Linked DNA regions of Homo sapiens: region 1 is linked to region 2. Evidence: fine-mapped expression QTL. A gene starts in region 2. The other region holds a variant in brackets. All regions are shown on one strand. Distances are between the middles of the regions. Region 1 has its middle 21 kb from the start of FAM217A. Region 2 holds the start of ECI2 (enoyl-CoA delta isomerase 2).

Region 1 (5,378 bases), 35 kb before region 2:
AAAACAGTTCATTTCTGGCCAGAAATGAATTTTGTGGAATCAAAAAGAACAGTAAGTGACACTCCCACATTCTAACTGACAAAGCATGCTGGAAGTTCAGTCCTATGTTGTAATCCTTGCTCAGACAAAATCATCAATAAAACGGGGCCCCAAGTTGTGCGGCCTGACAATAATGTTAACATTCACCCTATTTCTTCTGGGAAGTTTCAAAATGTGCATCTCCAATTAAGTATGCAATTAAAGGGAAAATGAGAATCACAATAATAATAATTGTATGGTAACTTGCCATTAGTTTGAGAATCATGCACACATAACCAACTCTATTTGTGTGGTCCCAGCATGCCTGCTTGTTTGCTCATTCTTTTTTTTTTTTTTTTGAGACAGAGTCTCACTGTCGCCCAGGCTGGAGTGCAGTGGCGCGATCTCGGCTCACTGCAAGCTCCGCCTCCTGGGTTCACGCCATTCTCCTGCCTCAGCCTCCCGAGTAGCTGGGACTACAGGCCCCCGCCACCATGCCCGGCTAATTTATTGTATTTTTAGTAGAGACGGGGTTTCACCGTGTTAGCCAGGACGGTCTTGATCTCCTGACCTCATGATCCGCCCACCTCGGCCTCCCAAATTTTGGGAGGTGTGAGCCACCGCACCCGGCCTTGTTCATTCTTTTATTTACTTACAATGTATCTGCTAGATGTCTAGGACCAGGCTAAGATCTGAATGGTGCTCAGTAATATTGTTGGAATAAAGGAATGACAAAGCTAAATAGGAATTATTATTATTATTATTTTGAGATGGAGTCTCGCACTGTCACCCAGGTTGGAGTGCGATGGCACGATCTTGGCTCACTGCAGGCTCTCCCTCTCGGGTTCACACCATTCTCCTGCCTCAGCCTCCTGAGTAGCTGGGACTACAGGTGCCCGCCACCATGCCTGGCTAATTTTTTGTATTTTTAGTAGAGACGGGGTTTCACCATGTTAGCCAGGATGGTCTCGATATCCTGACCTTGTGATCCTCCCGCCTCAGCCTCCCAAAGTGCTGGGATTACAGGCGTGAGCCACCGTACCCGGCCCAATAGGAATTATTAAGCTGCATATATATGTTTTCTCAAATCAGTGCCTTGTTACTCTTGCTATGCAAAGATGGAGAGGAACATTGAATGTATTAATGCTTATTCTATTACCAGGTGAGAATCCTGAACTCTCTGGCTTAGAAAGAATCTTAGCAAGACATCAGTTGCCAAAAGAGATTAATCTGACCCCAAAGCCGAACAGAATGCCCCCGTGGAAAAGAAAAATCATCAACAATGTAACTGACGGGTGGAAGAAATGTCACTTGTTGAAGAGAAACACGAAAGAGCCTCCAATGTCCACCATAGTTGTCAGGTAGACTCTAATTTCTGCCTTATGTGGATATATTTAGAGATACACAGGGTGATCACAAAATCTCTATATGCCTTAGCTAAAAAATGATAAGCACTGTTCTATATAAAAGCACATGGGCCCCATTTTTACCCACCACCAAGCTGCTAGAGGAGCCCTCACTGGGAGTAAACTCATGGAAATGGGAGCAGGAGTGTGGGTCCTCCATGGCCCATTGCAGTCTAGAATAGAGAGCAGAAATCTAGCAAGAACAGAGTGGGATTCTTGGAGAGAAACCCAACCACTGAGCTTTGGGGCTTTTTGGCTGCGTAAGTTGGGAAGCAGCTTGGTTTTTCACACCCACCATTGGCATGACCAGGGGCTAGGATACCATAGCAGGACATGGTGGACCTTTGGCTTTATCCCTGGTCTGCCAGACTGTACATGGAGAGAACTGGAGCACCATTGGACAGTCTTAACAAGAGGAGTGACATCATCTGACCCAAATCCTCTCTAGCCTCCCAAAGAATGCATGGGTGGAGGAGAGCTGTTGGGAGATTTTACAGCTCTGCAGGTAAGGGATGGTGGCCCAGGTGGTAACAGTGGGGATGTGGAATTGGTTGGATTCCGGTGCTCAAAGTCATAAGCTTTGGTTCCTTGGCAAATTATCTTTTTTTGGTGCACTTCTTTCCCTGCTTATGCCAGATAGATGGTGTTTCTATATTTGTTTTTTTCTTTTCTTTTCTTTTCTTTTCTTTTTTTTTGAGACAGAGTCTCGCACTGTCACCCAGGCTGGAGTGCCGTGGCGCGATCTCAGCTCACCGCAACCTCCGACTCCTGGGTTCCAGTGATTCTCCTGCCTCAGCCTCCCGAGTAGCTGGGATTACAGGCATGTGCCACAACACCTGGCTAATTTTTTTTGGTATTTTTAGTGGAAACGGGGTTTTGCCATGTTGGCCAGGCTAATCTCAAACTCCTGACCTCAGGTGATACAACTGCTTGGCCTCCCAAAGTGCTGGGATTACAGGCGTGAGCCACCGTGCCTGGTCTATATTTGTTTCTTTCGTATTGCTGCATGTATGGCAATGATGCCTACACTTTGTACATAGTAAGTATTCAAGCAATTTTGCC[G/A]GGCTGTCAGGATAAATGTAGATGTTGCTACAAAGACAGGATCATTTCTGATTTGAAGGTAACATAACCGGGAGAGAGTTCCAGCTCATGAATTTGCCTGAACTGGAAGCTTCCCCTGGGATTATTGCCCTGGTGAAACAGAGTCCTTGTCTGCATTTTTTTCAGTGTCCTCAGTGGCATAATTTGCCAATTTGATTTAAATATTGGTAGCCAAAGAAGGCAAAGGTATTATTATAAAAGAAGGTGGTCAATGGAACCATGGTGTTTTCTGGACAAAGCAAAGACACTACATTTTTTGTCCAGAAGTAGGTAAAGGTTATATTAAGTGATGATATCTGATTACTCAAGTGAAGATTATTTGACCATGCTTTGGAAGCCTGATATGATTTGGCTCTGTCCCCACCCAAATCCCATTTTGAATCGTAATCCCCACATGTTGGAGGAGGGGCCTGGTGGGAGGTGATTGGATCATGGGAACAGATTTCCTCCTTGCTGTTCTCATGATAGTGAGTAGTTCTCAAGAGATCTGTTGGTTTTAAAGTGTTGCACTTCTCCCCTCGCTCTCCCTCTCTCTCCTGCTCCACCACGATAAGATGTGCCTGGCTTCCCCTTTGCTTTCTGCCCTGATTGTAAGTTTCCTGAGGCTTCCCAATCATGCTTCCTGTTAAGCCCGTGGATCTATGATTCAGTTAAACCTCTTTTCTTCGTAAATTACCCAGTCTCATGTAGTTCTTTATAGCAATGTGAAGACAGAATAACACAAGACCTATTTTTAAACATTCAAGTTTCACAACCATAGAAAGTTTGTACACCTCAATTTTAGGTCCTGATGTCTTCATATGAAGTTATAGATCTTTATATCCTAGTTTGCTTTCTGAAAATATAGCTAGAGTATCAGAACATAGGAAATGGTACTTTTTTTTAACATTTTATTTTACAAACATTTATTTGCTTTCCTTAAAAGCAGGGACTGTCAGCCTATCTTATTTATTTTTGTATTCCTAGTGTTACAGGTTGGAGTCTCAAGCGCTGAGATAGAAATAAGAATGCAAAAGGTTTCCTGGGAGTGGTGTTGCATCAAAGTGGAAGCAGGAAAACAGTGTTGGGCAGGGATTCAAGAGGTGGAGAAACAGGCTTCGCCCCAGTGGAAGGAGGTGCAAAGTCATGTTGCAGGGGGCTTCGGTACAGGACAGGTGGGAGGATTAGGCCCATTTTGCAATCAATCAATCATGAACCTTGTCTTGGTTGCTGTGACTCCAGATTCCTGAAGGATCTGCTGAATTAACTGTTCTAGTTCTGATGATGCCTCCTGGCATTAATGATTCTTCTCCTATTACCTGGTAACATGGTAAATATTGTCATTTGATAACTGTATCATTCTTAATTCTTTGTGACTTAACTGACACCCTTGAGAGAATTCATTCTTTAGCCAAAGCAAGCCTGACTATTATTAAGAATCATCAATAATAGCTTTGTCCATAAAACTAGAACTACCATATGACCCAGCAATCCCACTACTAGGTGTGAACCCAAAGGAAAGTAAATCAGTATGTCAAAGAGCTCTCTGCCCTCCCATGTGCATTGCAGCACTATTCACAACAGCCAAGATATGCAATCAACCTAGGTTTCCATCAACAGATGAATGAATTAAAAATGTGGTGTATATACACAAGAGAATACTTTTTAGCATAAAAAAGAAGGAAATCCTGTCATATGAGGCTGCATGGATGAGCCTAGAGGACATTATATTAAGTGAAATAAGGCCCAGAAAGACAAACTTCAAAAGGTTCTCACTCATTTGTGGGCGCTAAAAATTAAAACAGTTGTATTCATGGAGGTAGAGAGTAGAAGAATGGTTTCTAGAGGCTGGGAAGGGTAGTGGAGGTAGTGAGAGGAAGTGGGGAAGAATACTGCATGCTCTCGTTCATATGTGGAAGCTGAAAACGCTGATCTCACAGAAGTAGAGAGTTGAGTAGTGGTTGCCAGAGGTTGGGAAGGGTAACGGGAAGGGGTGGATAGCCAGAGGTTGGTTACCCGATACAAAAGTACAGCTAGACAGGAGGAATAAGTTCTGGTGTTCTATAACACTGTAGGGTGGTTATAGCCAACAATAATTTTTTGTTTATTTTCAAATAGCTAGAAGAGGGCATCTTGAATGTTCCCAACACAAAGAAATGAAAATTGTTTGAGGTGATGACATGCTCATTACCTTTATTTGATCATGACACATTGTAAACATGCATCAAAACATCCCACTGTATCCCATAAATATGTGCAGTTATTATGTCAATTTAATCGAAGAATAGCTTTGTTTTTGTCTAAGAGCTATTGAACACTACTGATTCGTGTGCCCTTGACCACCTGTAAAATGGTGTTGCTAATACCTCATGTTGTATCAGAAAGAGTTGTGACACTGATAGAAAAACGACTGTGAAATTGAGTTTTGACAAGTATGAAGTACTATTTGAATGCATTGTACAGTATTTTCACGTGTTAGATTGAGGCAACTGTAGGTCCTAACCTTGAACCTGCCCTGGCAAACATTTGCTCAGTTTATGCTGTGTATCCCCGCTAGCACGGAGAGGATAAGGCCCCTCTCTCACATGGCAATAGCAGTTTTAGGGCCACAAAACAGGCAGATCATACGTGAGGCCTGCTGGCTTTGACAAAGTTCCTTCAGTGCTGTGCTATGTAAACAGATCAGCAGGCACAAAAGCCAGGAGTCCTGGGACCATGCCGGTAAACAGATTTTCTAAGTCTAGAGCTGCAGATGGTGGTGTCTTATCCCTGTTGGTGAACCTGGCAGGATTCCAACCCCCAGCTCAATAATACTGTAAATCCCTACTGGATACTGCATGTAAATTATAATTACTTGTAAACTGTGTTTACTGG
Region 2 (5,378 bases):
TATCAACATTTTCTTATATAACCTTGACACCATTAACGATGATTTCTAGGTATCTTCTAACACTCTGTCCTTACTCAAAACTTCCCCAATTGTCTTAAAAATACCTTTTTCAGTTGATTTATTCTAATCAAGAGCTAAGTAAGGTCTACAAATGTGAATATTATATCTCGTAAGTCTCTTTTACTCGTGTGACACTGAGGCACTTTGTGCCTTAATAGTATTTCAAGGTCTAATATAAAAAACTGGCATATATATATATACACACACACACTCTTCAGAGAAGAGGGAGCAAGACAAACCAAAATGTTAAGGCCACATTTTAGTAAACACACAGTGTATTTATTTAAGAAGTCATTTGCCCAAAATTCTTTAAATAACGTTCGACCGTAGGCATTTACCTGCTTATATAGCGCGTAGAGTTTTAGCTTCACTTCGTTTCCTGGATCCTTTTTCAAGAGTTTCACTTGATTCATTGAATTTTCAAAGTCCTTCTGACTGGCTCTCATTGCTGTTCTATTCATGTGCAGCTGAACTACCGGGAAACTAGTGACCTGCAGAGAACTACAATTAGGCAGACTGATTTCTATTTGTTCCCAACCCTCACATTTCTGCAGCCTGATTTCTAATTGTTCCCAGCCTATACATAACAAAATGCCATGTTTGTCTATAGATATTTTCTTTATACTTGCCTCAGCAAACTGGCTGCAAATAATTGGCTGTAAGGATTCCAAGATAATAAGTCAATACAGAAGCTAACAGTAGTAACTTTAAATAAAAGGAAAAGTAACCATCCAGGGAGGTATCTGTAAGCAACTAAAGATAAAAGCAGCCAGAACAGGAATGACCATGTAAATTTTGCCAAAGGCAAGAAGTGAAGTGCATGCAAGACAGTGGACAGCAGGAAACCAAAAGGCTAAAGTGCACAGAATTTAGTGAAGTGTCCCAAAGTCCTGAAACAGCCTCTGCACTCACTGATAAGCCATAAGCTATATCAGGTCAATTCTTGCCTCTTTGCTGGCGAAGCTGGTGTTCCAACATACACACAGGTGGAAGGAGGGGAGAATGGATGTGAACATACAAGAAATATTCAAAAGAACACACGAGCAGTTGCTGGCATTCCAGATAGAGCCACAGCCTTCTCAGCAGATGGGAGGGAATCTACCTGCAGTGGAAGGGAGTCAGTGAAGGGGGCTCAGCAGGCGTGCCCCTTTCTATGGGTATGTTTAACCAGCCAGCCAGGAACAGAGCAGAAACAGCAACCACCGCGGGGGTGATCAGCACGTTTTTAAGCACACATAGTGAGCGGGGGTGGGGTGGCAAACTTGAATGCACAGGACTCAGGCCACAAGCTAAAAATGGAGTTCACGACGATGACACTGAATAATAGAGTTAATGGCAAAAAAGATGATTAAAATAATACAGGTTACAAAGCCCAAACCTAACACACAAACACAATTATGTAACTCGAAAATGGTGCAATGAACTCTAGGTTCAAACTTTGGACTATTAGTAACTGATTCAGTAAGATCAGCCTAGAGTAAGTTTTACATTAAAATGATTTTCTGTAAAGGGAAAAACTGCATCTTATATGGCAAATTCCACGTAGAAAACGAAAGAAAAATTTAAAATATCCACAGAAAGCCGAAATGTACAAGTTTCCACAAAATGTGGAACAAATTTATTTTTAAATAAAGCGTGAGTTTTAAAAACAAATAGCAAAAACACGACCATTTAAGAAAATACATAAAGTCGGGAAAATCACTCATAATTCTACCACTTCAAGGCCACCACCGTGTTTCGGTTTTGTTCCCTATGCACAGATTCGTGCGGGTTCCCGGGACCCCAGGGAGGTGCAGCGTGCTTCTTAGCCGTTACTCTGTACCCGGCCATTTCACTTTATAGCATACGTGTTCTCCAAGAAGCAGAGTGTTAAGTCCACACGAGTGATAACGGCTTGCGTTTACCTCGCTTTTAGCAAGCGACGCTTTGCACCCCAGAAGCAGCCCGGCTGGGAAGTGCAGGCCCGGGTGCTCAGCTGGGGCGGCTCACCCGCCCGGAGTCCGGCCCCAGGAGGATGGGAGCGTGCGCGGAGGCAGGCGGAGACCTTGGGGACTGCTGACAGGGAACCATAGCCCTGACCTCCCGACGCGCCCATCCTGACCACTCCGGGCCCAGCGGTGCAGGAGGGCGCGCGTGAGGTCGTCACTTTTTAGCACTACCTCACCGGAAAACCAGCAAAGCAAAATCCTGTTGCCACCTAGACAATAGGGAAGGAGGGTCTTCCAACGGCGGCGACCTTCGCCTGGACAGCGGTATCCTGCGGGCGACCATGGGCCGAACGGCCGGGACTCCAAGCTTACCTCGGACACGAACGCCGCGCCAGTCTCCAAGCCAAGTACGCCATCGCCATCCCTTGGGCGGCTCTAGGGCTGCGGGGGCTCGGGGGTGGGGCCGGGTCTCGGGGGCGGGGCCTAGCTCGGTCTGCGGGGGCTCGGGGGTGGGGCCGGGTCTCGGGGGTGGAGCCGGGACTCGGGGGCGGGGCCTAGGCTCCCGGGCTGCGGGGGCTCGGGGGTGGGGCCGGGGCTTGGGTGCGGGGCGGGGCCGAGAGCAGAGCCCAGGCAGGAGCCTGGGGCATGGGCGGGGCCAGGGTTGGGGCGGGGCCAGGCTGAGAGCGTAGCCACGCCGCATTCGCCATCGCTAGCCCGTGGCCTCCTCTGGGGCTGCGGGGGCTCGGGGGTGGGGCCGGGGGGGTCGGTGCGTGGGCGGGGCGGGAGCTCTAGGCGGTTAGGAGTCGGGGCTCAGATGCGGGGGCGGGGCCGGAGCGAGGCCGGGTATCACCCGGGAGTGGAGGAAGTGCGGGGGGTTCGCGGCGCGGGGAGGGTGATCCCGGGAGGACTTGCGCGGCGCGTGGGGCGGGGCACAGATGCTCCCCGGCCTGGCTCCGAGTAACTGCGAGCTGGAGGCGCGGCTGCTCTCTCGGGCGGACCTCAGCTCTGCGAACCCTGTGGCTGCCGGAGCACTGAGCGCCCTGCCCGGAGTCCCGCGGAGCCTGGCGAGGAGGGGTCGCTGCATCCCGAGGGCCAGCCCTGAGCCGGGAGGTGGGGTAACAATTGAGGGCGTATGCTTAAAAGCTGCTAGGTCATGCATCCCCAAATCGAAGGTTTGCAGACCTGGTAGGACGCCTGGGGGTCAGAAGTGATTTTTGGAGTACCCAAGTTTTTAGTGTCAGTGAAGAGTTTGTGGATATTTTTGAGTTCTGCTGAGGCATTTGCAAAGTATTTTCTTTGGGGAAGAATTCTTAAGAGTTGGAAGGGCCTTGGCTGTGTCACCTTGTCCAGTTCCCAGAGAACCAAAAAACAAAACAGAACAAAACGAAACAAAACCACCCCTCTAAATTCTGTGCCCAAGTTGTCCCATCCAAGCATGCCTAGGAGTTTTAGATTTATGTAGCTGACACCTGTGGACTACCTATAGTGAGCCAGGCTAATTGTAAGTCTTTGGACAACCCTGTAAGGAAAATGATATTGCCCTGTTGAGCTGATGTGGAAATTGCCCTGTTGAGCATATTGCCCTGTTGAGCTGATGTGGAAACTGAGACCCAGAAAGATTAATCAGGTGAATTCCCCAAAGACAGGAGGCTTGCAGGTGGGCAGAGTCCAAGTCTCAAGTAACTTTATCATTAAGTTTCATCAGGTAGATCTGGGTAATAGTGTAGATGGGGCAACACCAAAAGTCAAATAGAACAATTTGGGCTTATCCCAAAGAGATTTTTTTTTTTTTGAGATGGAGTTTCCGTCTTGTTGCGTAGGCTGGAGTGCACTGGCACAATCTCGGCTCACTGCAACCTCCACCTCCTGGGTTCAAGTGATTCTCCTGTCTCGGGCTCCCGAGTAGCTGGGATTACAAGCATGCGCCACCAGGCCCGGCTAATTTTTTGTATTTAGTAGAGATGGGGTTTCACCTTGTTGGTCAGACTGGTCTCAAACTCCTGATTTCAGGTGATCCACCCGCTTCGGCCTCCCAGTGTTGGGATTACAGGTGTGAGCCACCACACCTGGCCTCTCCATATATTACAAAGTGGTAGTTGGTAGGCTGAGCTGCCTCTCTCAGAGACCTTGACTCTCTCCAAGGCTGTTAGATAACCTCAGAGGTAATGGAAATGCAGTAATCAGATATTGCAGATAATACAAGACTCATTCATTTCCAGAAGATGAAACAGCTGTCATGGAAATATTTTTTAAATCTCATACTGGTAAGCATATTTTGATAGTGAAACCTTTTGCAATGCAAGCAAACTACTCTCAGGCTTATACCTACCACAGAAAAGAGTGGGGTGTGGGAAATTAGCTTATCTTTTTCAAACTATAATTTTAAAAATATAGAAAGAGCATGTGTCAAAGATTTACTTAGCTCATTAATTAGGGAACCAACAGGGTGCTAAAGAAGAAGTTAAAAGACTAGTTTAATATAGTCAATGTTAAAAAAAGAATGCTGGAATAGATTGCAAAGTTAGAAACAAAACTGGTTAATATCCCATAGAGCAATAAAACCATAACCTCGGGAGGAATGTTTTTCCTATTGGAGAAATCATTTGCATATCTACCAGCTGTCATTTACTAAAGCCCCATTATATCCAGCATTTGAGAGAAAGGAGATGGTTAAAGAGACAGACATTCCTGGTTAAAGAGACAGACATTTAGATTCCTAGATCCTAAAGAGGGTCATCTTGGGTCCGTATTTGGTTTACTAAACTGTTAAGAGGTGTCCAGACCATGCCTTGTAAACATGGCTGCCATGGCCCTGTGGGTGGGAGGGCCAGTTGCAGCAAAAGGGAACCATTGTGATTTTGGTAGATTCTCCACCTGAGCTTGAAGATCATTGTATCTGTGCTAAGGAGTTTGGATTCCGTGCTGAGAGCAAGCAGAGAGCCATTGAAGATACAATTGGCATGCCCAGCTATCCAGTTCTCAGTGAAATCCTGGACTCCAGATATATCTTCAGGGTGTAATGGTTCTGGATAAGAGTAGGAAAGGCAGAAACTCAGTCAAGACCTCTCTAAAGCTCTAATCTTCACCCTGTTATATAACCAGCTTCCCCTGGAGCTTATGAAAATCTTGGGGAGGGGGTCCTCCAGTCTGGTTAGATCCTGTCTTATTGATTGCAGGGGACTGATGCTGCCTGGGAGGGCCGTTGATGTTCTTTGGGTTGAGAGAATCTCAGACTCTCTTAGCAGGTGCACAGGAAGTGTTGTCTCCGGCTATAATGAATCTTTGGGGTCAGCATATCGACTTCACAGTGTTGTGCTCAGTGGTAGTGTGAATGTTTCTTTTTTAAGATCATAGAATAGATTATATCAGAGTAGAATGTTACATGATGAC

Evidence for each region. PIP is the estimated chance that this variant, and not a neighbour inherited with it, causes the effect.
Region 1: its variant is the best candidate, but not a certain one, in a credible set for the expression of ECI2 in ovary (GTEx, PIP 0.80).

Annotation. Positions count from the first base shown.
Region 1 is chr6:4,097,820-4,103,197 of GRCh38, forward strand. It overlaps the pseudogene TEX56P. Among named protein-coding and RNA genes, the nearest start is that of FAM217A, 21 kb to the left of the region's middle. The variant G/A (reference allele first, on the strand shown) is at 2,487.
Region 2 is chr6:4,133,151-4,138,528 of GRCh38, forward strand. ECI2 (enoyl-CoA delta isomerase 2) reads right to left here and starts at 2,425. Exons shown (of 10, transcript NM_206836.3): 1 at 2,361-2,425; 2 at 399-561. The coding sequence starts at 2,410. It overlaps ECI2-DT (ECI2 divergent transcript), which reads left to right and starts at 2,922. Exons shown (of 4, transcript NR_103764.1): 1 at 2,922-3,098; 2 at 4,211-4,252. RefSeq lists silencers at 2,471-2,610, 2,771-2,980.